Linked DNA regions of Homo sapiens: regions 1, 3 and 4 are each reported to be linked to region 2. Evidence: microRNA targets listed by miRTarBase, many of them from high-throughput screens and not tested one by one. Region 2 holds a microRNA gene; each other region holds the end of a gene's coding sequence.
Evidence for each region. The annotated mature microRNA hsa-miR-6513-3p reads UCAAGUGUCAUCUGUCCCUAG and lies in region 2 at 2,154-2,174, opposite strand. An mRNA with a match to its seed (bases 2 to 7 or 8) in the 3' UTR can be bound and repressed. Matches are read on the target gene's strand: a 7mer-m8 pairs with bases 2 to 8, a 7mer-A1 pairs with bases 2 to 7 and ends in A, and an 8mer does both.

Region 1 (4,000 bases), not on the chromosome of region 2:
TGTCTGTTCTCTATAACCTGGCCAGCTTCTCCCTGCTGGCCCTCACCTCTGCCCTCACCGTCCACGTCCTGGGCAACCTCACCGTGGTGGGCAACCTCATCCTGTCCCGGCTGTTGTTTGGCAGCCGCCTCAGTGCCCTCAGCTACGTGGGCATCGCACTCACTCTTTCAGGAATGTTCCTTTACCACAACTGCGAGTTCGTGGCCTCCTGGGCTGCCCGTCGGGGGCTGTGGCGGAGGGACCAGCCCAGCAAGGGTCTTTGAGACCTGGGGGATCTCAGGAGCCACCTGGGATGGCCCTGGCCTGAATCCAGCCTCCGCTGTGGCCATAGAAGGAATGGAGAACAGGGCTGGGCATGGTGGCTCACGCCTATAATCCCAGCACTTCCAGAGTCCGAGGTGGGTGGATCACCTGAGGCCAGGAGTTCGAGACCAGCCTGGCTAACATGGCAAAACCTCATCTCTACTAAAAATAGAAAAATTAGCTGGGCATGGTGGCGCGTGCCTATAGTCCCAGCTACATGGGAGGCTAAGGTGGGAGGATCACTTGAGCCCTGGAGATCGAGGCTGCAGTAAGCCAAGATCGCATGCTACTGCACTCCAGCCTGGGAGACAGAGCGAGACGCTGTCTCAATTAAAAAAAAAAAAAAGTGGAGAACTGGCAGTGACCTCTACTGGGGGCCATGGCAGGGAGGGGAGCCTTCTGGAAGGGCTGCCTTGGAGATTGGAATGGGGACTCCCAGGGAGACCTGCGTTCCATCCCTGCCTGCCTCACCCCTGCCACAGACTCTGCACACCACTGGATGGTGGGTCCAAGCCTGGCACAGTCCCTGTGCTTGTCAGAGTCATTATTATGATTAATATCAATTACGATGCCAAAAATTGCTGGGCAAACTTTGAAGACCTCAACTTGTTACAATGACGATGATGATGATTCTTGGCGGTTACACAATCCTTCCTCCTGGGGGGGAGGCAGCTAGGAGGCCCAGCAGGGGGGCTTCTATGCTGCTGGGCTCCCCTAGGGAGTTGGGGTAGTCTGTGCCAACTCCAGGCAGCTGCTGTGGCCTCACCCCTGGGCCCCCCAATTTTGGGTCATCCATCCTCAAATACACTATTTTTGCTTGTATGCCTGTGTCATTTGTTGGTTGTACAGAGGGGATATAGGGAGAGTGGTAGGCTTCCCACACAGAAACTAGGACATCCTCCCTTACCCATCGCAGTCTGTCTGGCCCCCCACCCCGAGCCCAGTGCCATTCCCTCAAATCCCTCCACTGGCTGGGCTACCATTGCCCATCTTCTGGACAGTGGCAGTGGCCTCCCCCTTGCTCTGCCTGGCCCCTCTACTCCATCTTACACACAGACCCCTTCACCCAGAGGGATCTCACTAAAACGTGCACATTCTGATGTTCCTCACTGCTCTTGGGACAAAGTCAGAATTTCCTACCCCAGACCCCAACTCACTCAGGACGTGGCACCTGCAGCCTCACCCAGCTTGTCTCCCTTCCCCTGGGCTCTGCCTTCCAGCCTCACCGACTTCTTTCAGTTCCCCGTGATACCAGGCCTGCTCACTGAAACCTTTGTACATGCTGTTCCCTCCGTCCAGTCCCCGCTTCCTACAACAACCTCCTCCCTTCCCACAGCTTAAACCCCTGCCTGGAGGAGAAAACCCAAACATGCAACTCTTTTTAAAAAGAGAAATCCAGGCCGGGCGCGGTGGCTCACACCTGTAATCCCAGTACTTTGGGAGGCCAAGGCGGGCGGATCACCTGATGTCAGGGGTTCGAGACCAGCCTGGCCAACATGCTGAAACACCGTCTCTATTAAAAATACAAAAAAATTAGCCAGGCCTGCTGGCGTGCACCTGAGGCAGGAGAATCGCTGGAACCCAGGAGGCAGAGGTTGCAGTGAGCCGAGATTGTGCCACTGCACTCCAGCTTGGCCAACAAGACCGAAACTCCATCTCAAAAAAGAAAAGAAAAATCCAATCGCTTGAGGCCAGGAGTTGGAGGCTGCAGTGCACTATGATCATGCCACTGCACTCCAGCCTGGGTGACAGAGCAAGACCCTATCTCTTTCAAAAAAAAAAAGGGCTGATGAGGGTCTTGACAAGGGACTGTGCTCAGGAGGCTTGCAGGGGTATAGGGGAGCAGGGCTCCCATGTAGGGAACCTAAGACAGGAGTCCCAACCCCCAGAGCTCCCTGACTCGCCAGCTGGCGTCAGCTTTGTTATTTACCTCTGAGCCTTTCCTTGGCTCTTGTAACACCTAACTCTCCCCAGCCAGCTACCTCTCCTGGAGATCACCTGTTAAAGATGATAAGGACCCAGTTGGAGTGAGAACACCTGGAACCTAATCCTGCTCTGCCCACCTGACTGGGAGCCTCCCTTCCCTAGGCCTCAGCTTCCAGATCTGCAAAATGGAACTGATGATCCCTATGGAGAGGGTTCGAATGAGGAGCGCTGGGCAGGGCCAGGAGTGAGGAAGGAGGTAATGGCACCAACTGGCTCTGCTTTTATCTTGGGGTATTCACCCAACCTTTCTGGAAACCATCTGCAAAATGTCTCCCATTTGTGTGAGGACTAGGAGCTAGACCAGGCTGGGGCTGTGGTCTATGGAGACTGAGATTCAGGGAGGAATCATTCAGATTCAGTAACCAGAATTCGTAAGGGACCACAGTGCCAGCAAGTGCTAGACAGGGCTGAGTAAAGGGCCAGCCCACGGCGGGGTGGGAGTGGGTAGGGAAGGCCTAGGAGGACCGGTATGGGGTTTCCTGGTTCCAGCCTCCGCCCAGGCTGCCTTACAGAAGGGGAAGTCGGCCTGGGCTGAGTCACCTGTCACCCACCCTCTCTATGACTCAGAGATGCCGCTGGCCCAGCCCAGTCCCTGAGCAGCTTGGGTACCTCTGGCCTCCACTCTCAGGCTTTGCCAGGCAGGATGGAGGGATGGATGGCTGTGGTCAAATCCTCCTCGGTGACTCAGGACCCTTTCCCATCCAACTGGCCCCCACTGCCATAGCAGGGACCTCCCTGTACCACCCTCATTTCTAGGCCTTGTGGGATGCTTGGCTAATGAGTGAGCCTCACATCAGATTAAAGCCTGCCCCTGGTGGTTGTGGGGACAGGTAATTGGGGTTGTGTGTGACCTGGGAGCTGGTTTGTCACCAGATTCAGGACCATTAGACATTGAGGTGATTCCCCCAAGGCCACAGCCAAAGCCATGCCTATCACCCCTCCCAGCAGTGGGCACAGAGAGCGCTGGATTGGGAGTCAAAAAGCTTGGGTTTGGTGGGATGTGGTGGCTCACGCCTGTAATCCCAGTACTTTGGGAGTCCGAGGGGGGCGGATCACCTGAAGTCAGGAGTTCAAGACCAGCCTGGCCAACATGGTGAAACCCCGTCTCTACTAAAAATACAAAAATTAGCTGGGCATGGTGGCAGCCGCCTGTAATCCCAGCTACTTGGGAGGCTGAGGCAGGAGAATCGCTTGAACCTGGGAGGCGGAGGTTGCAGTGAGCCGAGATCATGCCATTGCACTGTAGCCTGGGGGACAAGAGCAAGACTTCGTCTCAAAAAAAAAAAAAATTAGACGGACATGGTGGTGGGGACCTGTAATCCCAGCTACTCGGAAGGCTGAGGCAGGAGAATCGCTTGAGCCTAGGAGGCAGAGATTGCTGTGAGCCAAGATTACGCCACTGCACTCCAGCTTGTGTGACAGAATGAGACTCCATCTCAAAAAATAAACAAAAATAAAAAAGAACAGGGGCTCTGGAGTTTGACTTGTGCTCGAATCCTGGCTTTGGTACATCTGAGCTCTGTGACCTTGCACAAGGTCCTCTCCACCTGTGCCTCTGTGCATTGAGTGGGGGCAGCAGTGGAACCTAATCCCCCACCAGCTTCTGGAGCTGTAATGGACAAAGGCCTAGGAAGGCCTCAGTCTTATCACAGATGCTTCCACTTCCTCCTCAAGGCTTCTCGTGTTATCTGCCCCACCCCTCCTCAGCCTG
Region 2 (4,612 bases):
TCTGAAGGGAAAGAGAAGCCTTGATTAAATGACTTGGGGCCCCTCAGGCGTCAGAGGCTCCTACAGCAGAAGGAAGCGCTTGGCTCCTGTGCCTGGAGGATTAAGCCTTGACTCCAAGGAGGGAGGTTGGCATGGCCTTTGGCACCTGTTCAGGTGTGGTACGCAGGGACAACATGGGCCAATGAGACAGACCTGTGTTGTGGCGCCAGAAACACCTGGATTGGTTTGCAACTCTTAAACTGACTGCCTGTGTGATGGGGAGAAAGTTACTCAGCCTCTTTGAGCCTCGGGTTCTTCCTATTTGTTAACTGGCTAAAATGCTACCTGTCTTGCAGGGTTACTATAAGAGTGACAGCTAGTTAGCTCCTAAACACACATGGTCCTTTGTATACACCTGAACAGTAGCTGTCATCGTCATCCTCCTCCTCATTTCTTGTAAGTTTCCATTCAGCTGCTATAAAGGAATCCTTCTTTCCAAAATACTCGGCCCCCATCCCAATCCCTGTCACCCCTCTCACTGTGTTAAGTCTCTGGGACTCACCTGGGTCCCTGGCAGCAGGCAAGGATCAGGTAGGTGACAACGAAGACAGCACTAGGGACAAAGAGATGGGGAAGCAGTTCAGGCCCAAATCTGCCCCGCTTGGCAGCACACACCAGGCCAGTGATTTGGGGCCCAAATAGCCGTTTGGAAGTCTGAGGGGAAGCAACTCAACAGGAAGCAAGAACGAGATTACCCCCAGCCAGGGTCACTGAGATGCTCTGAAGCACCAGGCTCCGGCCAGGAAGGAGGTCTGGGGAGGCTGCAGCTGACGGGCTGAGAGGACATGGGGGCTGCAGCGCAGCGTGCACGCCACCACCAGCAGGTCCCACTCTTGCTCTCGAGTTCTAGGGGTCTGCTACTCATCTGGGCACGCACACCCACACCCTCTGGCACGGGAAACTGGCACCAACTTGGGGGCCCTCTCAAAAAGCATTTTGATCCTGCCCTGAGCAAAGCTGGTCACCTAGAAACAGAAGCTGCCACCCCTGCCTCCCTGCCCAACCACAGAGGAGCACACACTCACTAGGACACGTAGTAGACAGCCACATTTCTCCTCACAAAGGCGCTGACAGGTTCCCTGTGGGGCACAGGAGGACAGGAGTAGTCACCCTGAGGCTTGTCTGCCCCACCCAGGCCAGCCAGGCAGCCCTGGCTTCACCTTCTCTAATTGCCCATGGTCACCCTGAGAGCAGGGCCCACCGCCACCCACACCCCCAGCAGGTGACCCTGAACCCCCAGGGCAGTAGGAGTGGGTGGCAAAGCCTAGAGACTTACACAAAGGTGAAGATAGCAATGATGGCCACAGTGATGAGCAGCTGCACGGAGATGATGGAGTAAACCTGGACACAGACGGCCGGGCATGGGTCACCATCCGGCACCCCTGGCCTGCCCCAGGAAGCTGCCAGCCCCCAGTACTTTCCTCCCACTCAAGAACCCTCCCTAGCTGCAGCCTGGCCCAGAGGCGACCCCAGTGAGATGCCTGGCTCAGAGGCAATGTGCACTTCTTCCTCAGCCCCGCTCCCATGCTCCCTGCCATCTCCCCTCCTGTCCAACACCAGCCTCGGTGACTACTGACTTGCCCTGCCTGGCCACCATACTCTACCAGTATGGCCTCTGCACTCCCAGCAGCTCAGTCTGCACGCTCTATGCAGCTGTGAGATGGAGAGGGTGGGTTACAAGCGAGTAGGATCATTTCTGGCTCCAAGCTGCCTATAGTCTAAAGGGAGAAAGATGTCTGGGGAAGGCGGGCGCTGTGGCAGAACCCACCTAGGAGATTCTCCCAGACTGAATGTGTCCTCCCAAAACATGGTCAAGAAGAGAGGTGCAAAAAGAGAGGGAACCCTGGGGTTAGAGAAGCCAGGTGCCCCTCTGAGAAGCAGACAAGGCTAGAGAAGACAGGCAGCCAGTGTATTTCATGGAATTGATGCCCTGGGGCTACTGTGGCCTACCCACTTCCCATTCCCACAGCCTGAGGGGCCCCAGGTACACCCACCTCCCAGCGCGTATCTTACCTTTCGGATAAAAGTGTGTCGCACTTTCCGGTCATCCCACTCTCCAGGCCCGAAGCTATCACTCACTGCTCTCTCCTCCCCATCATAGCCATGGCCTGGGCCTAGGGACAGATGACACTTGACTCAGCTGGGGACCTGAGACATGTGGCGTCAATCCCAAAGCCTCCCTGACAATCTCAAAGTCTCAGGGATCTCCAGCCAAAAGACAAGTGTTATAACAGGAACTCTTCTCCCAAGCTGGGGTCTTCTAGACACCCTCAGAGTGACCCAGAGCCGGCCTGTCACGAGGGGGCTTAGGTGGGAAACGTTCCTCACGTGCATCTGTGGAGGGCTCCTGTGTGCCCAGCCCACGCCACTGGGGGTTCACTGGGGGGTCACGATGTAGTGGGGAAGCCAGGCAGGAGCAGGTATGGGCATCCACTGGGGCAGCCAGCCAGGGCAGAACAGGGGATGGGGACAGAGGGTAGGAGAAAAGGAGGGCGGCAGAGCGCAGTTTGTGCAGCAGCAGGGATAGAGGTGAAGACAGGGATCTGCATCAGCCTCACAGAGGCAGGTGTGCAAAGGGTGTGCGTGACTGTGCAGGACCCATGCGCAGATCCGCACCAGCGCACATGTCCAGGTGAGAGCTGGCTGACACCCCTCTGGGGTTCAGAGATGCTGCAGGGCTGCAAACATTCCCTGAATGCCTGAATGCCTGAATGCCTCTTTGGGAACTACTTTTAAAATCCACGCTTGAGCCACCCAGGAAGACTCACTGCACTCTAACTTCACCTCATTTCCTTTTTTTTTTTTTTTTTTTTTTTGAGATGGAGTTTCGGTCTTGTTGCCCAAGCTGGAGTGCAAAGGCGTGATCTCGGCTCACCGCAACCTCCACCTCCCGGGTTCAAGCAATTCTCCTGCCTTAGCCTCCTGAGTAGCTGGGATTACAGACGCATGCCACCACGCCCGGCTCATTTTTTGTATTTTTGGTAGAGACAGGGTTTCACCATGTTGGCCAGGCTGGTCTCAAACTCGTGATCCGCCCATCTCAGCCTCCCAAAGTGTTGAGATTACAGGCATGAGCCACCGTACCCGGCCTCTTTTTTTGTTTTGTTTTGTTTTTTGTTTTTTTTTTGGTTTTTTTTTTGAGACAGAGTCTTGCTCTGTTGCTCAGGCTGAAGTGCAGTAGTGCGATCCTGGCTCACTGCAACCTCCACCTCCTGGGATTGCAAGCGATTCTCCTGCCTCAGCCTCCTGAGTAGCTGGGATTACAGGTGCACGCCACCACACCCGGCTAAGTTTTTGTATTTTTAGTGGAGATGGGGTTTTGCCATGTTGGCCAGGCTGGTCTCGAATTCCTGACCTCAGGTGATCTGCTCGCCTCAGCCTCCCAGAGTGCTGGGATTACAGGCGTGAGCCACCGCGGCCGGCCTCACCTCATTTCTGACCAAACACAAGCATGTCCCTGCCATGATGTTTACCAAACTTGGCTCCAAATGTCTTTTGCAAAAGTCAGATTTCACTTTAAAGGATGAGGAAAGTGGTTCAGGTTCCCAAAGGAGTTCCTAAGGAAGTCGACAGGTCTGGGAGGTGGCAGCAGCTTGTTGGCCGCTTGTTGGGAAACAGAGCTGGTGCCCTGAGGTAACCCCTCAGGAGTCATTACTTGGCCCAGCCCCATTCTCCTGTGGTGTGTACGTTCTGGGACATGCCTCATGGATCTCCTTGAACAAAGGGGGCAGCAAGTGGCTGGGGGCCAGTTGCTGAGGCAAAAAGTGGAGGGTAACAAAGACAGAAACAGAGGGAGAGATCTCAACAGAGAAGATGAGAAAGGGATTTAAGGGAAACTAGAAGAGAAAAGGGGCAGGAGGCGGTGGCCTCATCTGCTCCAAGTGCTGTCCCTCCCACCCACCTTCCATCTGCCCTTCCAGGACTCACCGTAGTTCATGGGCATCGGGTGGGTGGGGGGCATGGGCTGTGGGTAGCCAGCAGGGTGACCGTAGCCAGGCTGCGGGTAGCCAGGGTAGGCAGGATACCCTCCTGGCAGGACAGATGGCTGCCCATAGCCCCCAGGGGGCGGAGGGCCTGGGTACAGGGGGTTGCGGTCTTCATATGGTGGTGGGGCGCTGGGGTTGGACATGGCTGCTCACGGGCTGAGGGGGAACCCCAGCTGCTGGGACCTGAAATGGGAGAGGAGAAAAGCAATCGTGAATGCCCAGGCCCAGCTCACTCAGCCTCATGGGCCCACTTCCAGCCTTGTCCAGGCTGCCTCCGTGGAGAGGAACACCACCTATTTTCTCCTTAGAGGGCAGCGTGTGATTTGCTGTCCACAGGCCACCTCCCCACCAACTGGGCTCCTGTCCCTCCTGCCTTTGCGCCTGCTTCTTGTCCACAGGCCTCTCACTGTGCAGCTCCCCAGCCATAGGAAAGCAGGAGGAAGGATTCGCTGAGGAGAGAGGGAACCAGGGAGCCTGGGAACTCCCTGTTGTGGTTTAAGAAAACCTTCCAGTTTTGGTGGCTTGATGGCAGAACCAGCGAAGAAGCCAGATGGGCCAGGCACAGCCTCCTGGCGACTCACAGGGCC
Region 3 (4,000 bases), not on the chromosome of region 2:
AATCCAGTAATGAGGCAGAATATTGTCCTGCCCTCTGATGAAAAAGGAGAATTGGATCTGTCTCTGGAAAATCTGGATCTGTCTAAAGATTGTGGTTCAGTTTCAACAGTAGATGAGTTTCCAGAAGCCAGGGGTGAACATGTACATTCTCTCCCTGAAGCAAGTGTGAGCAGTAAGCCGGACGAAGGCCGGACAGAGCAATCTTCCCAGACACGAAAGGCAGATACGGCATTGGCTTCCATCCCTCCTGTAGCAGAGGGAAAGGCTCATCCTCCCACTCAGATTCTAAACAGAGAGAGAGAAACTGTGCCTGTTGAACTTGAACCTAAAAGGACCATTCAAAGCCTGAAAGAAAAAACAGAAAAAGTAAAAGATCCTAAGACTGCTGCTGATGTGGTCAGCCCTGGGGCCAACTCTGTTGATAGCAGAGTGCAAAGACCAAAAGAAGAGAGTTCAGAAGATGAAAATGAAGTGTCTAATATTTTGAGAAGTGGTAGATCCAAGCAGTTCTATAATCAAACTTATGGAAGCAGGAAGTACAAAAGTGATTGGGGCTATTCTGGTAGGGGTGGATATCAACATGTGAGAAGTGAGGAGTCCTGGAAAGGACAGCCAAGCAGAAGTCGGGATGAAGGTTATCAGTACCATCGAAATGTCAGAGGGCGACCATTTAGGGGAGATAGGAGGAGATCAGGGATGGGAGATGGCCATAGGGGACAGCACACTTGATGGTTGTTGCCGAAGTATTTTCTAACAGAAACTCTTAGGTGGAATGTTTCTGAAGGCTTTAAAAAAAATACAATAAAGTAAAAACCGCAGTTGGAACTCTTTCCTCTCCCCAGCCCCCCTTACCTTCACTCCCATACTGGACAAGACATTTTGGACATGAGTTCAAGGGGGCAGGTTAATTCCTGGCATTGCCAGTTTTCTTCATTCAGAATCTGTTTGTTGATCAAGTGACTGTCCCCGTAAAAAGTAGAAGATAAGTTTGTTAAAGTATTTTTTATAAACAGCTTAATATAAAACATTATAGATTTAGTGTTTGGCTTTTTTCCTTATAAGTTTATAAGTTTGATTTCAGATGTTGGAAATGTGTGCTTTATAGTGTTTACTAAAGTGACAAGAAAATATACCATTTGACACACTATAGATTCCAAACATAACGTTGCACCAAATAGAAATGTATATTTTATTATGCAATGCCTTAGTCATAAACTGGGCTCAAACAATTCTCAGCCTAAAACACTGTTGTCTTTTAAAATGCTTCCAACCCAAAGGCCTTTCATCTCAATATCTGTCAAACTTGAATAATGTCTTCTCTTTAATATTCACATAAGGCAGCCTATTAACTGTGTCTTAGCAATGTTGTATATAGTTCTTTTAATATTCATAAGGTATATTTTTGAATTTTGGTATTTGTTGAGATTGCATAGAAGAATAGTAGGAAATCCAATGAAATGGCTGTTTCCACCAAGAATTCTTAGCACTGGTGTAAATATCATGGTGCCTACTCGAAAGAAATGTAGATGCTATGCATTTTGAAAATAATCTGCATCAGTTAGAACTGCAGAAGTTTTTTTAATGCCACTTTAACACTAATGCACTGACAGATTCTAAATATTTTGTGAGAAGAAATGTTAAAAATTTTTAGCTTGACAGGTTTCTAGAGTTGTTTTCTTCCTCCCCCCCCCCCCCGCACCATTGGTTGTGTATCACTTTCACTTTACACTTGCATGTTCTACTTGTCAGGGCTGGAACTATTGTATAGAAGATAATATGATTGTGACTTCTAGTTCTTTTCTAGAGGATGCTGCTAGAAAATGGTTTTGCTTTGTATTTTATAGCTTGTTACCCTTAGGTAGGTAACATCTTACATTCTGTTTTCTTCCAGTCTTTGCAGTATTCACTAGAGGTTCCCTTTGCATGTTGCACTCTGTTCTCATTTGGAGATTGAACTCTGAATTAACACAGTATTCATTCATCTGTGTTATTTTGTAAAAATAACTGTAGCTTATATTCTTTATTTGTGCATACCAATGTGAAAATCCACTCTTTTATTATGTTGAGATTATCTTCTGATCAGGAAGTTTGAGTGCTATGCAAATAACATAGTAGTAATTTCTCTTTGCATGCCATGTGTAATATACCTAGCCAAAACCAGATGCGGTGACTTTCTTTTTTTGTAAAGCAAATTACTTAAGAAAATACAATTCACTTGAATTTGACAAACTGAAACAGATGGGTTTTCTGGGTTCTCTGATAACCTATGGGAATGTTTGGATGCCAGTTGGGCTAGTGAATCGCCACTGTACTGTAATAATGGTTATTTACCTCTGTGCTGTTTTAATTACCTAACGTCTGTGTAACTGCTGATTTGAGTAGTGATTAGCATTTAGATAATGTAACAGGATTTTAGAGAGCACTTTGAAAGATAACATTTTATTATGATGGTGCTAGGTAAAAAATTGTAAAGACTGGGATGGTTGTGTGGAAAACTTTTCTTGAGAGAACCTATTGAAAGGAATTTGTTGTCACCTTCTTAACTAGAATAGTTGTTGAAGGTACCGCTTAAGCCATTTTTTTCTTAACATCGGTGGCTCAGTTAAGGAATGAGAAGATAGAGGGTCCTCCACTTTCAGCTCATGCTTTTTTATGTAGGACTAGCTTACCTGATTTTAATGAAAATCACATTTTGATACAAACACCAGATTTGAAAGTTCAATGTGTTTGATCTCAGGAGTCCAAAATAAGTTGTTGCTTCTAGTGTCCTGCATTTTATTGACTGGGGTTTGATCTCAGCTTCTGAAAATGTTTAAAAATTGGAAGGAAATACTACTCATATCTTCATTGTCACTTTGTCTTACCTCAATTGAGTAACAGAATATAGCTCCTGAAGGAAACACTGATTTGCTTTCTGTTTCCCATATCTCACCTCTAGGATATGATGGAAGAAGTGCTTGAAAGAGAATTTTAGCAGATGGTACTTTTCTCAGTGACCTCTGGAATAAAAGAACTGACTTTTGATAGTTTTAAAATTAATCTTTGCATGAAGGTTGGTTTCGCTTTTTTTCCTTTAAGTTTGTTTTTAAATGTATTAGTCCAGGGGATTTTGCCTTATGCTGAGGTCAAACTAAGGATAAGCAAGCTTTTGTCCTTCATTTTAACTGTTATGTCATACTGTTATGTTGACATATTTCTTTATAAGAGAATAGAGGCAAAAGTATAGAACTGAGGATCATTTGTATTTTTGAGTTGGAAATTATGAAACTTCACCATATTATGATCATACATATTTTGAAGAACAGACTGACCAAAGCTCACCTGTTTTTTGTGTTAGGTGCTTTGGCTGAACTTGATTCCAGCCCCCTTTTCCCTTTGGTGTTGTGTATGTCTCTTCATTTCCTCTCAAATCTTCAACTCTTGCCCCATGTCTCCTTGGCAGCAGGATGCTGGCATCTGTGTAGTCCTCATACTGTTTACTGATAACCCACAAATTCATTTTCATGGCAGACCTAAGCTCAGACCCTGCCTTGTCCTGGCAAGCATAGGTTTTCCCAGACCACAATGCTGATATATCTTATTTAATGCAGACTGTATTCTTGCAGCGTGTTGTTTCCTTTGTGACTCAAGGTTGAATTAAAATGCCTGTGAACTGCAAACTTGCTTATGATTGACTTGGTGCAATAAAGTTCCTTTCTAACCATTTCTGGTTTAGAAAACATTCAGCCATCCTAGAAACTAGCAATATTTATTTTTGCCTCTTTCGTTTTACCTTCATTTTTAGATGAGGTAAATGTTTTGTCTTTTACTTAAGGGTACTAAGCAAGGTCCACTCTAGTGTAGCTGAAGAGAATGCATATTTGGCTACACTATTTCTGTTTACTGTATTTTGCTTCCTACTTTATGTCTAAATGCTATTGTTTGTTTAAAATCCTAATAATGTCTCATTTCCAATATGTTATTTTCAGATAACTAAGGTTTTGCTACTAATGTCAGCCAT
Region 4 (4,000 bases), not on the chromosome of region 2:
CTCACTGCAACCTCCGCCTCCTGGGTTCAAGCAATTCTCCTGCCTCAGCCTTCCAAGTAGCTGGGATTGCAGGCACCCACCACCATGCCTGGCTTATTTTTGTATTTTTAGTAGAGACGGGGTTTCACCATTTTGGTCAGGCTGGTCTCGAACTCCTACCTCAGATGATCCACGCGCCTCATCCTCCCAAAGTGCTGGGATTACAGGCATGAGCCACTGTGCCTGGCCTGTTATTTCTAAACTGAACCTTTCATTACTTTCTTTAGCCAAAAAACAGGCCTGCTGCATGTACAGGAGGAAGATAGCAATGTTTCAGCCTAAGGGTCCAACCGGAGAAACTAATATGCAGAGATGGGGCTGTGAGATGGCCCTATTGGGTTGGAATCAGAACTAGAAGTCACACAACCTTGAACCCTATCAGAGCCTCATCAGCTCAGTTTAGGGATAGGGCAGGTATATCCTCCTTGGATATTCACTAACTTGAAAGTTAAAAGCAGTTTTCCTGGTTTTCATGCTGGCAGTCTTTATATGCACCAAATCTTTTCTAGCCTTCCTGGTGTACCTATCTTTGGAGCTGCTCACCACCAAATTCTGGAGGTACACAGCTCTAAGCTAATGGTAGGGGCAGGAAAGACATGTGGAAAGAAATAAATACTCAAGCTGCCCCCACAGAGACTGATCTTTCCTGCTGTGTCATCTTCCTTGAGGATGGACAAACATAACTTTTGTCCCGAGATAATGTATAATGTACACTCTTATCCCTTGACTCCCACCTTGCCTCCCCTTCCTACAATAACCCTCCAAGCCATTCAACCCCTACTCTCAGTGAGACTCTCACTAACTACCCCCCATCTCTTTCTTCCCCTACTAGGAAACTGAGCCCAATTACCAAGTCCTGATTCGCATCCTTATCTCTCGATGTGAGACTGACCTTCTGAGTATCAGAGCTGAGTTCAGGAAGAAATTTGGGAAGTCCCTCTACTCTTCTCTCCAGGTGAAACTTGGCTACTTCTTAGCCTGGAGCCTCAGGCCTTCACTCCTCACCTCCACCCTCACTCCCTGCACACAGCTGAGCATATTCTTGCCCCATAGAAAACCCAGTAGTTAGCCAGGCACAGTGGCTCACGCCTGTAATCCCAGCACTTTGAGAGGCTGAGGTGGGCGGATCACGAGGTCAGGAGTTCAAGACCACCCTGACCAACATGGTGAAACCCCGTCTCTACTAAAAATACAAAAATTAGCCAGGCATGGTGGCGTGCACCTGTAATCCCAGCTACTCAGGAGGCTGAGGCAGGAGAGTCGCTTGAACCCAGAAGGCAGAGGTTGCAGTGAGCCAAGATCGTGCCACTGCACTCCCACCTGGGTGACAGGGCAAGACTCCATCTTAAAAAAGAAAACCCAGGAGTCTTTGGTTAATGTAGTGCAGGACTCTGAGCTCCCGGGAGGACCCTTCCCTCCCAGATGAACTGTGATGGACCAGCCCAAAGGAGGGGAGAGAGCACTTGGGCCATAGTGGTGGTGGATCTTTCTAACACTGAATTCCCTTGTCTGCAGGATGCAGTGAAAGGGGATTGCCAGTCAGCCCTCCTGGCCTTGTGCAGGGCTGAAGACATGTGAGACTTCCCTGCCCCACCCCACATGACATCCGAGGATCTGAGATTTCCGTGTTTGGCTGAACCTGGGAGACCAGCTGGGCCTCCAAGTAGGATAACCCCTCACTGAGCACCACATTCTCTAGCTTCTTGTTGAGGCTGGAACTGTTTCTTTAAAATCCCTTAATTTTCCCATCTCAAAATTATATCTGTACCTGGGTCATCCAGCTCCTTCTTGGGTGTGGGGAAATGAGTTTTCTTTGATAGTTTCTGCCTCACTCATCCCTCCTGTACCCTGGCCAGAACATCTCACTGATACTCGAATTCTTTTGGCAAACTTCGCTGTTGTTTGTGTTCCCTGATTGAAGGTTGGGTGGAGCAGGACATGGACCGGGAAGAGGCACTGGAGTTGGAAGTGCCTTTGATGTGCACTTGGCTATTCCGCAGGAATCCTGTTTTGCCTTAGTGCTACAGTAATCCACACCCAGGTCTCCCACTCCAGGTCTCCCCTCACCCTCATTCTCCAGGAAACTTCAGGCAAAATAATTGAGAAACAGGCATTAGAACAAGGTGAGAAATAGAGGGAGCAAAGGACCATCTGTATGAACTGGGAAGCAAGCGGAGGGCCAAGCTACCCTCCCCAGCATGGGAATTCTTGGGTTAGTGGAGAGCACAACCCTCAAATTCATGTGTCCAAGCAGAGATTTGGAAACCCACCTCCCAGGAGAGCACTATTTCCCATAGAAAACAAAAACAAAAACAGAAACAAAAACAAAAAGTCAGGCTTTGGTTCCCCCTGCAGGCTATATTAGAAATGACAGGTAGCTGGGCGCAGTGGCTCACGCCTGTAATTCCAGCACTTCGGGAGGCCAAGGCAGGCGGATTACTTGAGGTCAGGAATTCAAGACTAGCCTGACCAAAGTGGCGAAACCGTCTCTACTAAAAATACAAAAATTAGCTGGGCGCAGTGGCGCATGCCTGTAGTCCCAGCTACTCAGGAGGCTGAGGTAGGAGAATCGCTTGAATCCGGGAGGCGGAGGTTGCAGTGAGCTCAGATTGCACCACTGCACTCCAGCCTGGGCAATACAGCGAGGCTCCATCTCAAAAAAAAAAAAAAAAGAAAAAAAGAAATGACAGGTAACCACCTTCCTGCCTCTGACCCACCTCCCGCTTTTTGCATTCTTCAATTGGGTCAAATACTTAACCCTATTGCTTCAGGGTAAGGCAAACAACAGATCTCAGGAAAGAAGGTTTTTTTTTTTTTTAGACAGTTTTGCTCTTGTCGCCCAGGCTGGAGTGCAATGGTGCGATCTCGGCTCACTGCAACTTTCACCTCCCAGGTTCAAGTGATTCTCCTGCCTCAGCCTCCCGAGTAGCTGGGATTACAGGCGCCCACCATGACGCCCAGCTAATTTCTTGTATTTTTAGTAGAGACGGGGTTTCACCTTTTTGGGCAGGCTGGTCTCGAACTCCTAACCTCAGGTGATCCGCCCACCTTGGCCTCTCAAATTGTTGAGATTACAGGAGTGAGCCACCGTGCCCGGCCAGAAGTTTTATTTCCAAACCCCAGGAAGGCATTACAAATAAGAGATAGAAACCCAAATTAAGCTCTGAAACAACTGGAGACAGGCCTGCCTAGGTGATCAGGAGCATCCAGGCAGCAGGGATGGGAAGCAGAAGAGATGCATTCTGGATAGGGACCTCACCCCAGAGCCTCAGTCTGTACATACGTGTGACTATTCAGGGACCGGGAGTTGAGAACCAGAAACCCACCAATCCTAGTGTTGCCCTGGATGGGAGGCAGAGAAGGCAGCAGCACGTGAGGTCAAGGACATTACCAAGTCTGACCTTGGCATTTGTTGCCTGCTCTCATCCCCAACAGTCCATAAATAAGTTATCCAGCACATCTCAGGGGTGGAGGCGGGGGAGCAAGCCAACTAGCCATAGCCTCTGGAAGAAGGGGCAGGCCAGCCTGGCACTGGGGCAGAGCTACAGCAGAATGCAGTCTGACTCGTGCTTCGGCCTCTGCCGACGCTCCCCGGCTGGGCGTCCAGATGTGGCTCCTCTCCCCTGTATCGGATTTAACAATTGGTCACTGAACTTCCTTGGAAGAGCACAAGAAGAGATTCTAGAAGAAGGGGTGTCAGGATTGGGACAGAGAGTAGGGAGAGGAAGACAGGAAGGGGCTCCAGGGGAGAGGGACAGGCAGGGGAAGGACTCTGAGAGAAGAAACCTTGAAGAGACCAGTGCAGGAATAACAGGTGTTCTGGACCCGGCAAAGCATGAGGTGGAAACCGGGAGTGTGGGCGCCCAGGCAGCAGCCCACCTGCAGTGACAGGACCCGCGTCCGCATCCGCACTGGCTGCGCTGCCTGCTGCTGTTGATACTCCTCTTGCTGAAGCTGCTGG

Region 1: the mRNA of SLC35E4 is a reported target of hsa-miR-6513-3p. Seed matches in the 3' UTR shown: 7mer-A1 at 544-550.
Region 3: the mRNA of OTUD4 is a reported target of hsa-miR-6513-3p. Seed matches in the 3' UTR shown: 7mer-m8 at 1,726-1,732 and 7mer-A1 at 2,213-2,219.
Region 4: the mRNA of MINDY1 is a reported target of hsa-miR-6513-3p. The part of its 3' UTR that is shown has no 7-base or 8-base seed match.

What each region holds. Positions count from the first base shown.
Region 1 is chr22:30,646,769-30,650,768 of GRCh38, forward strand. SLC35E4 (solute carrier family 35 member E4) reads left to right here. Exons shown (of 2, transcript NM_001001479.4): 2 at 1-1,125. The coding sequence ends at 263. Among named protein-coding and RNA genes, the nearest start is that of SLC35E4, 13 kb to the left of the region's middle. RefSeq lists an enhancer at 1-4.
Region 2 is chr2:218,277,974-218,282,585 of GRCh38, forward strand. It overlaps MIR6513 (microRNA 6513), which reads right to left and starts at 2,215; the gene lies at 2,152-2,215. All of the region lies in intron 2 of PNKD (PNKD metallo-beta-lactamase domain containing), which reads left to right. TMBIM1 (transmembrane BAX inhibitor motif containing 1) reads right to left here. Exons shown (of 12, transcript NM_022152.6): 2 at 3,967-4,208; 3 at 2,053-2,153; 4 at 1,316-1,380; 5 at 1,065-1,118; 6 at 542-592; 7 at 1. The coding sequence starts at 4,168.
Region 3 is chr4:145,134,159-145,138,158 of GRCh38, reverse strand. It overlaps OTUD4 (OTU deubiquitinase 4), which reads left to right. Exons shown (of 21, transcript NM_001366057.1): 21 at 1-4,000. The coding sequence ends at 729. Among named protein-coding and RNA genes, the nearest start is that of ABCE1, 38 kb to the right of the region's middle.
Region 4 is chr1:150,993,706-150,997,705 of GRCh38, forward strand. It overlaps MINDY1 (MINDY lysine 48 deubiquitinase 1), which reads right to left. Exons shown (of 10, transcript NM_001376665.1): 9 at 3,919-4,000; 10 at 3,130-3,662. The coding sequence ends at 3,582. It overlaps ANXA9 (annexin A9), which reads left to right. Exons shown (of 14, transcript NM_003568.3): 13 at 872-994; 14 at 1,555-1,929. The coding sequence ends at 1,617. Among named protein-coding and RNA genes, the nearest start is that of MINDY1, 11 kb to the right of the region's middle. RefSeq lists enhancers at 2,271-2,490, 3,840-4,000.